Regions from separate parts of the Homo sapiens genome. Here region 2 is linked to region 1. Evidence: fine-mapped expression QTL. Tissue or cell type: whole blood. Region 1 holds a variant in brackets; the other region holds the start of a gene. All regions are shown on one strand. Distances are from middle to middle.

Region 1 (8,107 bases):
TCCTGATCTTTAAATCTCTTTTATTTATTTTTGCTTTGGCCACTGGTAACATCTGCCTTGTTTCCTTATTAATAATGAGTTAGAGAAAATCTTTGACGTGTTCATTTAATACCTATGTGAGAGTCATGATTTCGCTTTTGTTTTTGTGGAAAATTGTCTTTCAATATGCTGTTTAATTATGAAATTGAATTCAGGAACGTTTTCCTAGAAAACATTCGAACGTGGTCCTAGGGAATGACCTAAAACACTTCTATGCTGCCTTTTTGAATCATCTCCTCTTTCCATTTACGGTCTACTCATGACTCTGCCACTACATTTCTATATAATTTTGAATGGCACTTCAACTTTCCCATCTGGAAAGTAGGGAGTGGAACTCAAAGGCATTCTATAAGACAGCAGTTCTCAAACTTCATGGTCTAGGGACTTCTACACTTTTGAAAATTATTGAGGACCTCCTAAAATTATCAGGGCTTTGGCTTATGTGGGTTGTAGCTCTTGTTATTTGCCATATTAGAATTAAAACTGAGAAAATTTAAAAAATATGTATTTATGAGGCTGGGCATGGTGGCTCACGCCTGTAATCCCAGCACTTTGGGAAGCTGGGGTGGGTGGATCACAAGGTCAGGAGTTCGAGACCAGCCTGGCCAACATGGCGAAACCCTGTCTCTACTAAAAAAATTCAAAATAAGCTGGGCATGGTGGCCTGTGCCTGTAATCCCAGTTATTCAGGAGGCTAAGGCAGAATTGCTTGAACCCGGGAGGCAGAGGTTGCATTGAGCTGAGATCATGCCACTGCACTCCAGCCTGGGCAACAGAGCAAGACTCCATCTCAAAAAAAAATGTATTAATTCATTGAAAATAACAATAACAAGCCCATTACATGGTAACATAAATAACATATTCTTATGACAAATAACTATATTTTTCAAAACAAGAAAATATACAGTGGGAACAGTGGCATTGTTTTACATTTCTGCAAATTGCTTTATTGTCTGGCTTAAGAGAAGACAGATTCTTGTATGTGCATTTGCATTCAATTTGTTGTGACGTCAATATGTAGCCTCTAAAATATCCAATTATGTTCATGAAAGAAGGCAAGTAAAAAAGGCAAATAACATCATAATAATATTATGAAAATAGTTTTGACCTTGCAGATTCCCTGAAAGCGGCTCAAGTCCCCTCAAGAGTTACTGGAACACTCTTTGAGAACTGCTGTTATAAAGTAAACCAAGACAACCTAGAGGTGGGAGTAGTGATTTTTTTATGATGGGCATGCCAGTACATCATGCTGGTCCCTTCTTAGAGTGACAATTGGCTTTCCTAAGCATTCCGGAACAGCCTTTCCTTGGGCGCACACATACGCAAGTGTGTGCATGTGTAGCAGCATCTGTTGATCTGTGCTGGGATTCTGTGTTACAAGCTTGAGTGGGACATCGTATATCCCTGGAGTAGGAACAGGAAGTAGATTGACGGTGGGGGAAGGAGATAAGCTCCATTCTTTTTTCCCAAAGAAGCTCTGAGTGAGTCCCTGAAACTGCATTTGCAAGGGCCTTTGTCCTAGAATTCGTTCTTGATCCTTTTCTCAAATCACGGCTTGGAGAGTGAAGTCTCTGGAAGCTTCTACTCTTACTCAGATGACCCTGCTTCTGACCCTTGGAGGGTCACTGGGCTCTAAGATGACAGAAAAGCAGGTATTGGAAGAGTAGTCAGTAAAGGAAGAGAGTTTTCCTTCCTGAAAGTCCTGAAGAAAAAAAAACACTCTGTGCCTTCCCTGTTAGAATCACTCTTCTTGTTCTTCCTTGCACAGGCTCCTTGATACCAGGAAATATTTTCAGTGCAAGATGAACCTGGAAGCTACTGCTGATACTTTCTAGGTACCAAATGACCACTGTGAAGAAAATGTAAATATTGACATGAGCTCACTGATTTCTTCCTTTTAGAGAAGTAACTCAGAGATTTGAAGTTTATAAATAATCCGCTTATTCTATAAATAAGAACAGACTCAGAGCTTTTATTATCACCTCCCTTTTATGTACTTACATTCCAATTTACACCATAAGATAATGGTTAAGAATTAAATCTTTGGAATCGGGACAAACCTAGGTTTATATCCTTGGTCTGCCACTTCATGGTAATGGGAATTTAGAGAAATGTCAACCGTTCTAAACCCTAAATTCCTCATCTATAAAGTAGGGGTGAGTTACTTTGAGATCCCTGCAAAGCAGAGCCTGAGTCAAGGACCTGGATGCAGGTAGTTTATTAAAGGTAGTGTTGAGGGTGATCCCAGAAAGAAGCAATGTAGGAAGAGAGAAAATGAGGCAGATTTAAGTGAGAAAAACAATATGGCATATTATTGGGCTGGTTACTCTTGTGGCTGATTGAGGACTGGGCATCCTCTTAGGGATGCTCAGAGAAATCATATAAAATGCATCCAGAGATGTCCCTCTGAAAGGGTGGGAGCCTGAGACTTTTCTCCAGACTCGTCCCTCATTGGCTGAGGATTGCCCCAGGGGCACCAATTTTCACTGGGAAGAATGAGCTTGCAGAGAACTCTCCACTGCCGCTGTGGCTGAAATCAGCAGTGGATCGTGGATGTGTCATGAGGCACAAAGCTATCTGCTACAGGAGATAAATAATGACCGTGTCCTAGAGTTAGTGTGAAAATTAGATGAAGTGCTGTCTATAAAATGTCTAGCATTGTGCCTTGCTCAAAGGTAAGTACTAAGTAAGCATTCACTTTATTGTTGCGGCTGATGTGATCATTATGATTATTATCATTGTATGTTCATGAGTGAGAGAGATGAGTGAATATATGACTTAGAGGGTTCCAAGAATGACATGTAATCTGCAGTCTATCTCTTCTATGCCAAAGCCTGTATGATGATTTACCAGGACCAATGGCCAATTGTTGTGATTATTAGGGGTCATTACACTACTTTTACTTTCTCACCCTCTTTTTGATGTTTTGTCAAAATTTGGGCTCAAGGAGAAGGCATATTCAGTCAGTTGTTTGTGATGGAAAAAAGGTTGCCATTATGCTAGAGCAGCGCTGTCTAATAGAACCTTCCACGGTGATGGAACTGTTCTCTATATCTGTGCTGTCCAAAGACAATAGCCATTAGCTGCATGTGGCTTTGGGCACTTAAAACATGGCTGGTTCAGCTGAGGAACCAAATTTTTAATTTTATTGAAAGTTGTAGTTAATTTATATCTAAATGTAAATCGCCAAATGCACACACAGGGAAGGGCAATTAGAGATAGTGTTCCCAGTAGATAGTGGAAGGGCCCCTTCCCCTGGGGCTAAAATTAAGGTGATACAGCCAGCAATGTATTTCCTGCAGCCCCTGGGCCTGAAGCCCACGAGATCTGACTTCCAGGTTGGTGCATGGTGGTATCACCCAGGCCAAAGGGCTGCTGGCTGAAGACAATGTCCCCATGATGTTGTGAAGACACGGAGCCAGTAGAGGTTGGAGGGGGAGAGGTGACGACCTCCACTCAGCTTTGGCCCATTGTTTTGTGTGCAGAGCCAATCGCCCACCCCTTTGCAGGGGAGAGCTTCATTCTCAGCTGCCCTACAATGAGGGAAAGATTAAAGAGAAGCCCATCCACCTAGTGTTGTCTACTTCCTAAAGGTTACACTACCCTAGAGACAAGATTCTTGGACGGACGCAGTGGCTAATGACTGTAATCCCAGCATTTTGGGAGGCCGAGGCGGGCGGATCACCTGAGGTCAGGAGTTCGAGACCAGCCTGGCCAACATGGTGAAACCCTATCTCTACCAAAAATACAAAAATTAGCCAGGCGTG[G/C]TGGCAGGCACCTATAATCCCAGCTACTCAGGAGTCTGAGGCAGGAGAATCCCTTGAACCCGGGAGGCAGAGGTTGCAGTGAACTGAGATTGTGCCACTGCACTCCAGCCTGGGCAACAAGAGTGAAACTCTGCCTCAAAAAAAAAAAAAAAAGATTATCATTTAAGTATGATTAACTCCAGCATCACCTCCTCTGGCTGGTCATCACTTCTACCCTCCCTTTAGCTTCTGTGTCCTAGAATTGACCACTTTGGTAACTGACTATTCACTTGTCTATTTTCTCCATTAAACCGCAAGCTCCGGAAGGCAGGTGCCATGCCTTCTACCCTAGCACAACGCCTCAAACACAGTCAAATACTCAACAATACTGACAGCAAGGGCAACAGGAGTGGAGAGAGGAGAAAGGTTCATATTTCCTGAAGTCATTCATAGACCTCGTGGAATTCAAGCTAAACCTTGACAGAAAAGCAAGTTTAGTTACTCAAGGAGTTGTGTAATGACATTCCAGAGGGGGTAACATCAGAAGCAAAAGGGGAGACTAGCCAGGCATAGTGGTGGGTGCCTGTAATCCCAGCTACTTGGGAGGCTGATGCAGGAGAATCACTTGAATCCGAGAAGTGGAGGTTGCAGTGAGCTGAGATCACGTCACTGCTCTCCAACCTGGGCAACAGAGCGAGACTCTGTCTAAAAAAAATGTAAAAAGCAGCAGACAGGGAAGTGGGATGAACTCACAGCACACTGAAGGAGACAGGATGAACTGGAAAAGAGGGTTTGGATGGCAAGATGGGATTAGCCAAGTGGGGCCTCTCAAGGGCCTTGAGAGCCAGGTAGTTGAGATTGGACATGATGTGGTTGACAAAGAGCACCATGAACCAGAGAACCTTGGGTTTCTGAACATGGTGAAAGATGAGGTAACATCAATAAATCTGTTAAGATGTGGTTGGCATCAGTTGTTTTTTGCCTTTAACTTTCAATCCTGCCTCCTGTAGCAAAAGGACTTCAATTTCCTTAGAACCACTGTTCTGCCCACATGGCCCAGTGACTCTACCTCTATCCCTAGGTCCAGGGGTGGGCGAGCACAGGAACCAGATCTAGCCAATAGTGTCTTAGGAAGGGTTCCAGGGATATAGCCAGAGGCTTCTGCTAGAGCTGTTGTTATCTTTCTTCCTTGATTACTAAACTGTTGAGATATAAACCTGGGCCTGCTGACACCATCTTGATGCTGCGGGGCAAGAGTCTGAGAATTAAACCAGCACAGAGAATAGCCTAGCCAAGGGATGACAGGGACATTCCATGACATCCTCTAAGCATCTGGATCCAGCTGGGCTTGAAGTGGGACCTATTTTGGGGCATTAGGTTTCTGTCACTTGCAATCAAAGAAGTCCTGACTAATGAATACTCAGGGTCAACTGGGTGAAAGTGGGAGGAGATGAGCATCAGAATGCCCATACCAGCTGGTGTGATGGGAATTCAGACATGAGACACTGAGGGTCTCAACCAGGGCATTTGGGGGCTAGAGAGAAAGGAGGTGAGTTAAGAGGTGAGCAGGAGCTATCTAGCGGTTTCCTTTCTTCGAAGGTTGCCGTCAAGTAGTTTCTAATGGTTCTTTACCACCTCTGCCTTCGTGATGCCCCTTTACCTCTTTCATTTTTCTTTTCTTTTTTTTTTTTTTTTGAGATGGAATCACGCTCTGTCACCCAGGCTGGAGTGCAGTGGCGTGATCTTGGCTCACTACAACCTCTGCTTCCCCGATTCAAGCAATTCTCACGCCTCAGCCTTCCAAGTAGCTGGGATTACAGGTGCCCACCACCACACTTGGCTAATTTTTGTATTTTTAGTAGAGACAGGGTTTCACCGTGTTGGCCAGGCTGAACTTCTGACCTCAAGTGATCCACCTGCCTCAGCCTTCCAAAGCGCTGGGATTATAGGCGTGAGCACTGTGCCCATCCTCTTTCATTTGTTTTTAACCATTTTGTGAGATAAATGAATCAGGCATTCTTGTACCCACTTTAAAGCAGGAGAGGTCAAAGGACTTGCCCAAGGTCGCATGGGAGCGCTGGAGCCTAGTTCTGGTTCTCTAGTGCATGCTAATGCTCGAGCACAGTGTGGACTGAGCTCCCCAGGCCCCGTCTTTCTGTTGCTTCATTGTGGAGATGCAATACCCGGCTCCCGGCTTTTCTTATGACTTCCAGAGAGAAACAGCAGTAGTTCTTGCTGAGGAAAGGCCCAGGAGCCCATGGCCTTCTTCATTAAAATAAATTCTGCCTGAGTCTCCTGGTTCTAAATAGAAGAAAATGTAGATTTGGGGCAGAACCGAAGGGAAAGGGATTTCCCTTGGCAAATTATTTGCAATTTGTGGATTGGAGCTGACCCAGCTCCAATTCCCTCTGTCATTCTAAGTGCCATCTACAATGTGACCAGCTTATTAAAGAATGAGAACTGGAGGCAGTCCTCCCACAGGGGCTCAACAAAACAGGAGCAGAGTCACAGCCCAGCTGCGTCTTCCTCAGTGTAGCATGTCTAGTTGCTGGCTAGATTCTCACCCTTCAGTTACATGTTCATGCCTAGGCAGCCACTTCTGGGGGCTGTGGGAAGAAGAGCGAGAATATTTATGAGTTGTTTGTGCCTTTCCTTTGGCAGTATGAAAAGCTAGCTGTCATAAATACTGTAGTGGTCCTCAGACTATAGCATGTAACAGAATGCACGTTCTTGAGTCACTGCCAGGGATTCTGAGTTCGTGGGTAGCTCAGGATCCGCTTTGTAAAGAGGCATTCCAGGTATTAATACTCCTGGAGCAAGTGGTCCATGGACCACAGTCTGAGAAACACTGATGTCAGTGGAGCACTAGTGTGCAAACTCCAAGTGGCCCCCTTCATCCGTGGTTTAAAGATGCTGCTGTTGCTGGCACAAGTCCCAGGAGATCCAGTGTTTCCTTCTTTACTAACAGGGTCTGTTACTGGCATAATCTGAGGAACATTCAGAAGTCTTTCTCGACTAAGAAGATCTCCAAGGAGCAGCTGCATCTAGAGTTCTAAGGACTTAGCTTCTCCTGTACTCCTTTTAAATCACAGATAGCTACAGAGAACAGCACTTCTGTTGTTCAGTCTTTATTTTTCATAAGGGAAAAAGCCCACTGTGGCATACCTGCAGCAAGTGAAAGTGTAAATACAGCTCCTCTGTCTGCATACTCCACCCTATCAGAGCCCTGGGCTCTCCTCACAGCCCCCACCTTTCTCTGTCCCCAAAGGCTGTACCCAAGATGTACAGACCTAGTAAGAAATGCTTTTAGAGTGTCAAGTGAGTTTTTTCTTCTTTCGGACATCTCTATTAACAAAATCCTAAAGAAAATCAATGGATTCCTATTTCCTCATCCATTCATACCATCAGATCCTTCTCAAATTGACCACAGAATCAGTGGCCGTCACAATGAAATTGACTGCATATGAAATGAATCTGAAAATTCCATTTATTAAAACACATACATTGTCCATGTGGGATGAAAATGTGCACATCACATTCAGGTTTTCCTGCTTTAACATTTCTGTAGTTCTCTCTTTGAAACACACACTCCACAGATCTTATATAGGAAAAATGTGAACAACTTTTGGGCTGCAAAACATTAATGCATACATAACAATTCATCATTGCCAAGAGCAGCTAGAAGCAAATATTAAGGAAGAAAGACAAAGAAGTATAAAAATTCCTAAAGACAGCATGCTTTATTTTCTCAAAATTCCATATGTGACTATGAGCGTATGGAGAAATCGTTTGATTTTTAAATTTATTGTTTTGTCCTTGGTAGGCAATCTCCTTCAAATATTATTAGCAAAATCAAACATAGATCAAAGTATGTATTTGCATCTTCTGATTGAAATTAAACAGTACTTGGTTTCAAATGTTTTAAAAATAACACTTTTTAAACTGGAGTTGATATTGAGGATCATGTAAAATTATTCTTTATAGACTTTGCATTCTAAATATGAAGTTTATTGTTACTACTTATTAGTTAATTCCACGGCAGATTTTCATTTCTATCGAATATATTATATGTAGAAACTAGGGCCTTAAATAATTAAGCTGACTTTTCCTATTAGTTATTCCTTAAGATAAAATTATGCTGGTGAAAATGACTGTTGAATTTCTCAAGAAATTAAGCTCTATAGAGGCATAAGTAATCGAAAGACTTTTTCCCCTGAATAAGTACAAATACCAAGAAGCCAAAACTCATATAAAGATTTTCGTATTATAATTCCATACTGTAAGACATAAAATTATGAAAAAGCCAAAACATTTTCCTTAAA
Region 2 (8,107 bases), 110 kb after region 1:
TCACTTCTGGGTTCCCAAAAGAAGTAAAAGCAGGGACTCTAACAGATATTTGTACACCCGTGTTCATAGCAGTATTATTTACAATAGCCAAAACATGGCCCGAGTGTCCATCAAAAGAGAATAAACAAAGTATAGTCTATACATTCAATGGAATATTATTCAGCTTAAACAGGAAGGAAATTCTAGCACATGCTACAACATTGATGAATCTTAAAGACATTATGCTAAGTGTATTAAGCCAGTCACAAAAGGACAAATATTGTATGACTTCACATATATGGGATACTTGGTCACATTCATAGAGACAGAAGTAAAATGGGGGTTTCCAGGAGCTGAGAGAAGGAGGGAAAGAGGAGGTATTGATTAATGGGTATAGAATTTCAGTTTTGCAAGATAAAGACAGTTCTATGGATGGACGGTGGTGATGACAGCACATCAATGTACTCGCTACCACAGAACTGCATACTTAAAAAAATAGTTAAAATGGGAAATGTTATGTTATGTATATTTTATCACTATAAAAAAAGTCTCCCTAAACCTGTGAGGCAGTGGTAAAGACCAAGAATATGCTAACTTTTCCTTATGCCACCAAGGAAGAAAAAAATAACATTTCAGTACCTTCTATGTAGAAATCACTCACTTATCCGCACACAAAAGCAAAAACAAAGCAAAACAACAACTTTGATTATGTATTACTAGCCCTTCTTTACAATGAGGAAACTGAGGTTCCTAAGTTAATGTACCAAGGTAAGTAGTAAGAACCAGTAATAGGTTTCAAAGGCAGATCTGCCTGGCTCCAAAGCCTGCGTTCTTTTCACTCCACAGTGTTTTCTCCTACCCACAGAAGTCTTTTATGAACAGGCTTTCTACTTTGACTATACAGCTTTTAGACTTAAAAGTTGGGCCTGCTTTCTGAAGCAGGCTAAACAAAGTCAGTCAAACAAACACATTCACTACATGTCCACCATATGAGGCCCAAGGCTGGCAATGAAATAATGGAGTCATGTTTCCATTCAGCCATTGGCCATATGGCAGAAAAAAAAAAAAAAAGCACAATTAAAATTTCTGTGTTGGTCTACTCCTCAAAAGCCAGTGAATACCCCAGGAAAAATCATTAAGTCTTTCAATATTCCATATGGCCAGAATAAGTGGAAATAGTTTCATTTTACAATGTAGAAGCATATTCATCTTTTTCCTAAACATTCTACCATCATAGTTACTGATCTGCTGTTACTCACTAATGTTCTGCTTCAAGCTGGAATTTAACGATTAAGAAATGTTTTGTGCTGTGCAGAAAATAGGCACCTCTTAGTTGTTTTCAGAAAGATAGCAAGGCCCTCTTGACTCTACTATGCCCGTCGGGCAAGGTTTCATTTTCTTACTCATGTGTGAAACACACACAGAAGACTAATGCAGATTGTCTGTGCCTCCCCAAACAAAGTAGGGTGTTGGCATTATCTAGTGAATACAGCCTGCAGAGGAGTAAGTACCAAAGGGTAAGCCTGTCCTTATCCATGCAGCTCAGGTTGCCAACTTTTTACTTCATTTCATGATGCACAGCTTGATTCTAGAACTCCACTGGGTCATTCTGGATCGAAGATCTATCCTAGGTCTCTTCTCTAAGAAGATGATCTTTACATACTTCCCTTTAAGATGCAAATAGGAAGTGGAACTGCAAAATCCATGTCACGACTTGTTTTGCCCACAAGTTTGATTAAATTCAGTGAATCCTTCAAGGAGTTCCATGGTTTCAATACTAGCAGTACTTTGTCTCTTAGGCATGGTGCAGGTTTACTTTAATGAGCAAAAAACCTCTGAGAAATAGACTTTTTTTTTCTTTAGTAGCTATAAAAGCTTCCCATCTCTCAAAATGTGCTGCTACTCCACAGATTTTGAGAAGCCATATCGATTTCATAAAGATAGCATTAAAAATAGCCCTATAGCTCTTAACAAGTGAGAACGATGATAAAGGAGGAGGCATATACATACATACACTCTCAACTAGCATATTTGGTATCTAAGAACCTATGTTTCAAGAATCTGTGAGTGTCAAAATATTGACTTTTTTTAAATTTTTACTCCACTATAAGCAGTTTTTTCTCTTTCTTTTGAAAAATTATCTCCTTTCATTATAGAAACTCTAGAAGAAAAACCCTTTTATCAATGACTACTTACTGCTTAACTGTACTTTCTGTTGAAGATTAAAAAAGCTTAATTCTTTAAATCGTGCTGCATGAGGGTATTAAACTCCCTAATATATCCTGTCAGAGGAATCTCACAATCTCAGTTCTCATCTGCTAGACCTATTTAGTGTACTTTTACATATCATTCATAAATATGAACAAGTCATAGACCCAGGCTCTCATTAAGAACATCCTTTGCTCAAGAAAATCAAAGAATAAAAATCATGTTCTGGTTTTACTACTTCAGTCTATCTACCAGATATTCGCGTAAGGAAACAACCCAGCTGCACTTTTTTATTTTGTCCCTCACCGAGGCTAACATGCACCTTGACCTAGAGGTGAATAAAATGCATATAAACATAAAATCCATGCATATGCTAGTATCTGATTCTGGACAAGTTACTGGCCTTAAACCCGCCACGCTCCTTTGAACAAGGATGCAACTTTAGGATAAGACCTACTGGCAAATGATAGCTGTGTCTGAGGTTATCCTGAAAGCAGCTGCACAAGCTGAGGGAGGAAGACACTGTTTTTTAATGGTAAATACTGCCCCTCACATACGCAATTCAAGCCTTTGTTGGCAAAATCTAAGTACAAAAGAATTTAACTCCCCCAAAAGCCAAATCACAGCCATTATTTTTGCAAAACAGAAGATATCCCAGTGCAATGTGTAAGAAAGAGAATGCAATTAATATTTTACACCACTCACTCCCCTAAAACAAGGGGACTGCCGGGCTCCGATGACCAGACCACAGCTTCACAGCCCCAGATGGATTTCGACTCAGCCCTGGTTTTCCTCCGAGAGAACTATACAAACAGCTTCTTGTATTTAGCATGTTGGCCTGTTTAGTCATCAAATCTAAGCACTGATGATGAGGTTTTTTTAAATCAAATGTGTCATAAATGTGGTTATTCTCAAAGACCCTTCCAAAAGAATCTAATCATTTCCCCTAGTCCTGAAGCGATGTCTCTATCATCCCTTAGAAATCGGACCTTAAAACCACAAGCGACGGTCGTTTTTCTCAATTAAAAACGAGCAACATGGAAAACGTTTCATTTACCTTAGCTCCCGAGGCTTGGTCCGAGGAGCGTGGTTTTCCCCTCTCCGGAGCTGATCTGTGCAGGCGAGCTCCGGCGCAGCCCAGCCCAGCCCAGCCCAGCCCAGCAGTAGTAGGAGTTGCCCACGGAGCGCGGCGGCAGCGTTGTGAGTATGTGTAGCAGCGGCTGCAGCCCAGGGACTAGTCCCCACCCAGCTTTGTCTTCAATCAACGTTCTTTCTACAGGAAGCAGCGCATCTCCCACTTCCTCCTCTTCTTGGTAGCTGTTAGCGGCTTGCTTCTTTTCCCTCTCATTTCCATTTCAGGGCTTACTCTGGTGGTTTTGTCTGCTCCTGGGCTGCTGACAGTGATTTGACTTTAATCCCCCTTCTCCCTTTGTTCAAGTCCCTCTGGTGCTGTCTGTTCCTTCCTTCCCCTTTTCTCATCCCCCCACGGTCACCTCCACGACAGCTTCCACACACTGCTCAGTCGGCCCCCTTCCTGGCACACTGCCTGCTTTTTTAGCCTGAACCTGGCTTGTTGCTATTGTTGTTCTTGCTGTTGTTGTTTCTACTGCTGCTGCTGTTTTTTTTTGGGTCAACATCCCCTGGCCAGGTTCTGGCCCCCGAGATCCCACACCAGCCTCCACTGTTCCTCCTGATTTACTGTGGTCCCCATCAAGCCAGCTAGCTGGGAGCTTGCAGCTTGCAGCTTGCAGCTTCTCACTGCAGCATTTTTCTCTGTGGCCAACATTTCAGAGGCTTCATTTCTCCAAGGTCCCACTACCACTGAGATCTTACTTAACCCACATGCTCAGAAAAGAATGGCCCTGATAAGTATTCTTATGGGGCACGGGAACTAAACCAAGTTGGCAATGCTACCTATAGGCCTAATAGTGAGGACTATTCCCAAAAGATTCTCATAGATGGGAAGGAATGAGGTGGTGCTGAATGCTGCACATTCCCAACAGAGAAACTGAATACTCCTCTCCCCATTCCACACACACTAGTAGGGCTGAAGGACCCTCATGATCCTCCAGTCCCTTCCCTTCATCTTAGGAGGTAATATCGTAGAACCCACCAGGGTAGAGCCTGCAAGCTGTCTCTGTCTGCCAGAATTTCAATCCAAATTGCCATTAATGACTGTATGAACTTGGGCAAATTATTTAACATCTATGTGCCTCAGTTTCCTCATCTGCAAAACATAGTTGATGATAGTCATGCTCTACATTGGAAATATGAGGATTAAATGAGATGGTATACAAGGTGCTAATAATAGTTCTGGGGATATAGGACGTATTCGGCACATATTAACTCTTATTATTTTTAGAGGATGTTGGGCCTCACATTCAGCAAGTGATTTCGCCAGTCAGCAGCCGAACCCTCACCAGTACTTGGTTTTCCAATTCCTCACTATTAGTATGTTCACAATTGAGCCCAGATGCTTTAATAACAATTTATTCAACGTGTGAGTCATTCTCCCCCTAGTACTAACACAAGGTACTTTGGGGAAGCTACAGATTAAACATGAGATGGGGGAAGGGGAATCCTGTTCTAGTGTCCAGGCAACATTATGGAGTTAAAAACAAAAACAACAACAACAAAAAACACCTCTTCTCAGGAATCAGTGCCTGGAAAGCTAATCTTGCCAGGAAACAGTTAATTCCCCAACTCCTCCTTTTTAATCCAGTTTTGCCTTAATCCTCCAGCAAGTAAACTAACAGGAAATGTTAGAAATCTAGGACTGATGGAGAATAACTCTCCAGTTGAGCCTTCCAAACACATCGTGAGGACCACAGCACGTTAACCTAGAAGGTACAGAATTTAATTTCTATGAAATGTTCTGAGACAGTCCCAAAACACCCTTTGTTTTGATTTGAACAGTTTGCTTATTTTTTCAAGGAAATCTTTCATCAAAAAGGACCCTGATGTCAACTCACTCACACCTGAAAATTACAAAATGGATTGATTTAAGATTGAAAATGAGCAACTAGCTTTGATCCACCAGCAGATAGAAATGCAGTAGTGAGAGGGATTGGGCATGAATCCACCAACATGTGAGTTATCTCCAAACCAGGAACCCTTGTGCCAAAGGTTACCAGGAACTTTTAAATGTAAATTTAAATATGCATGATGCCAAGTCTAAGAAAAATGAGAAGCATGTTATTAATGGTTGGAAACAAGACTATGGTTAATTTTAGACAAGTAGGTTCTGGCATAAACTCTAGATTCAAGTACAGTAATTTTTTGTGTCTTTTTGTTTCTAACTCTCTCTCAACCATCCTCCGATGGTTGGTATTTATATTTAAGCCTATATAGGTTGGTATTTATACTTAAGCCTATATAGGAAAACCTCTTTCAAACAATAAAATCTCTAGGAATTTTGCCTGCTGCCTTTTAATTAGTTCTTCCATCTCTGGCCCTTATAAAACTCACAGTAGGTTAATCGCCAGTGTTGGGAGGTGCCAACAAAACTCTATACAAAGCTAAAAACTAGATTTTAAGACCTCTCTTTCATTAATACCTCATTGCTTTTCAACTGGTCCTAATAGCCTCTTTTTCAGGAGAGAAAAGTAAAGTGTGGGGGTATAGCTTGGCCAGGATAGATTAATCCAGTTTAGAGCTCTTAACACAAGTTTGCATACCAAGTTTGCAAAGTGTTAATTTCTTAGGAAAATGACATCTCGCCATTAATAGTTTATGCATCAATTGCTAACCATGAGCCTATCCCAGTACATTTTATCACTGGGTAAAACAAAGTCTGTAAAATACTCTAACATTCATGCATGGCCTATTTGCAGGCATTAATACCTTGTATTTCTTACATCTACTGGTAGCGGAGGTTGGGTAATGAGGAGGACATAATTTTGGCCTGATGTCTCTCCTATGTTATTGAGCTTTCTAGCTGGATGTTCCTTGGAGTTATGTTTAATAATCCCCAAATTATGTACTATACCTTCATCCAAAGCCTGTTCCTCTTTCTATATTCTCCATTTCATTTAATGAGGAATACAAACCAGTTGCCCACATCAGGAATATAAGAATAATCCCAAAACCTTTTATCTTTGTTATCCCAATCTGATTTAAAGTTCCTCTTCCTTTCCTTCTCACCACCAAACTATCTCCTTGCCCAAACCCCTCCTCTCTCTTCCTCTTGCCACTGTCTTATTTTACAAATGCTTTGGTTTTTTCTGTGCAATTACAATACTTTCTACTTTGTCCTCCTACCTCCAGTCTCTCTTCGAAGCCATCCCCATCAGAAGTACATTGCTGAGATGGAGAGTTGATCAAGTCACTTTCCTACTATAATTCTTCAGTATCTTCCCCTCCAGGTTGCTTACAGGATATATGCCTTAATTCCTCTGCATGGCATACAAAGCCTTCTGTGATGTCACCTGTCCACATTCTCACCTTAGGGCCTGTCGCAGCCTTATATCCTACAACCTTCACAACAGGTTCCTGATGGGACTGTGCTGCTTTCTCCCTGCATCTTGGCACATGCTATTTCTGTTGCCAGAAATGCCCTATCCCTTCCTCTATTTTGCCTGCTAGTAAACCCCTACTTATCCTTTAGGACTCAGCTTTTCTCAGAAGCCTTCCCTGGCCGTGGAAACTAGGCAGGTGCTTCCTTTTCTGTGAGTATGACTGGTGCCTTGCCTCTACTTCCATTTCAGCACTAAAGCCATTATTTTCAGGTTTTGTTAGATGTGCATCTCACCCATTAGCATTTGGGTCCATTAAGGTTAGGTCCACATTTGCTTGTCACACAGCAGAGTCAACAGATGTTTGTATAATGAAAAGGCATCATTGGCAGAAATTCCATTCCTTTGAGTGAGGGGAGGAAAAGGAAGTCTCAAAAATGAGAAGTTGGTCATGGGGTAAGAAATAAAATCCCTCCCTCTCTATATATATATTTTGCAAATTTTCTATAGAAATCCATGGCACATGCACACAAAATTCTGAATATTTGTTATATGGGCAAGCCTAAAAAATTCTGGGACAACTCCTAGTTCCATTTCTGCATTGAACTTCTTATAAAGAAGCATAGTCTGGCAACAAAAAAGTAATTAGAAAATAAATATTAAGGCTGGGCTCAGTGGCCTATGCCTGTAATCCCAGCAATTTGGGAGGCCAAGGCAGGCAGATCACTAGGTCAGGAGTTCAAGACCAGCCTGGCCAACACAGTGAAACCCCATCTCTACTAAAAATACAAAAATAAGCCGGGTGTAGTGGTGCACGCCTGTAGTCCCAACTACTCAGGAGGCTGAGGCAGGAGAATCACTTGAACCCAGGAGGCAGAGGTTGCAGTGAGCCAAGATTTTGCCATTGCACTCTACCTGGGCAACAGAGCAAGACTCCGTCTCGAACAACAACAACAAAAAAGAAAAGAAATATTAAAAAGAAAGCTATTCTTTATTTGTATCTCTGTAGGAACTTTAAAGAGACTGATGAATAAGCTAGAAACACTTCTCACATCCCCTTCTGCACTCTCAAATCTTTGCCACATTCCAACTGTCCCAGAGCATCTCATATGCCAAATCCCCAAACTCTTTAATCTCTCTGCAATGCTGTACACCTCCTTCTCTCTCCTCCCCCGCCATGCCCAGCTAGTTCTTTATTTTTTCATTTTTTATTTTTTTGAGACTGTCTTGCTCTGTTACCCAGGGTGTAGTGCAGTGGCACAATCTCAGCTCACTGCAACCTCCACCTCCCAGGTTCAAGTGATTCTCCTGCCTCAGCTTCCCGAGTAGCTGGGATTACAGGCGTGTGCCAACCCACCATGCCCAGCTAATTTTTGTATTTTTTGTACAGATGGCATTTTGCTATGTTGCCCAGGCTGGTCTTGAACTTCTGACCTCAGGTGATCCACCTGCCTCAGCCTCCCAAA

What was found. PIP is the estimated chance that this variant, and not a neighbour inherited with it, causes the effect.
Region 2: GNG2 starts here. The variant in region 1 is fine-mapped to the expression of GNG2 in whole blood (TOPMed, PIP above 0.99). The same link has a PIP of 0.9 or more in blood mononuclear cells and lung.

What each region holds. Positions count from the first base shown.
Region 1 is chr14:51,968,943-51,977,049 of GRCh38, reverse strand. It overlaps GNG2 (G protein subunit gamma 2), which reads right to left. Exons shown (of 4, transcript NM_053064.5): 4 at 7,255-8,107. Among named protein-coding and RNA genes, the nearest start is that of RTRAF, 17 kb to the left of the region's middle. The variant G/C (reference allele first, on the strand shown) is at 3,807.
Region 2 is chr14:51,855,928-51,864,034 of GRCh38, reverse strand. It overlaps GNG2 (G protein subunit gamma 2), which reads right to left and starts at 3,423. Exons shown (of 4, transcript NM_053064.5): 1 at 3,245-3,423. RefSeq lists enhancers at 3,307-3,516, 3,303-3,804 and a silencer at 3,857-3,936.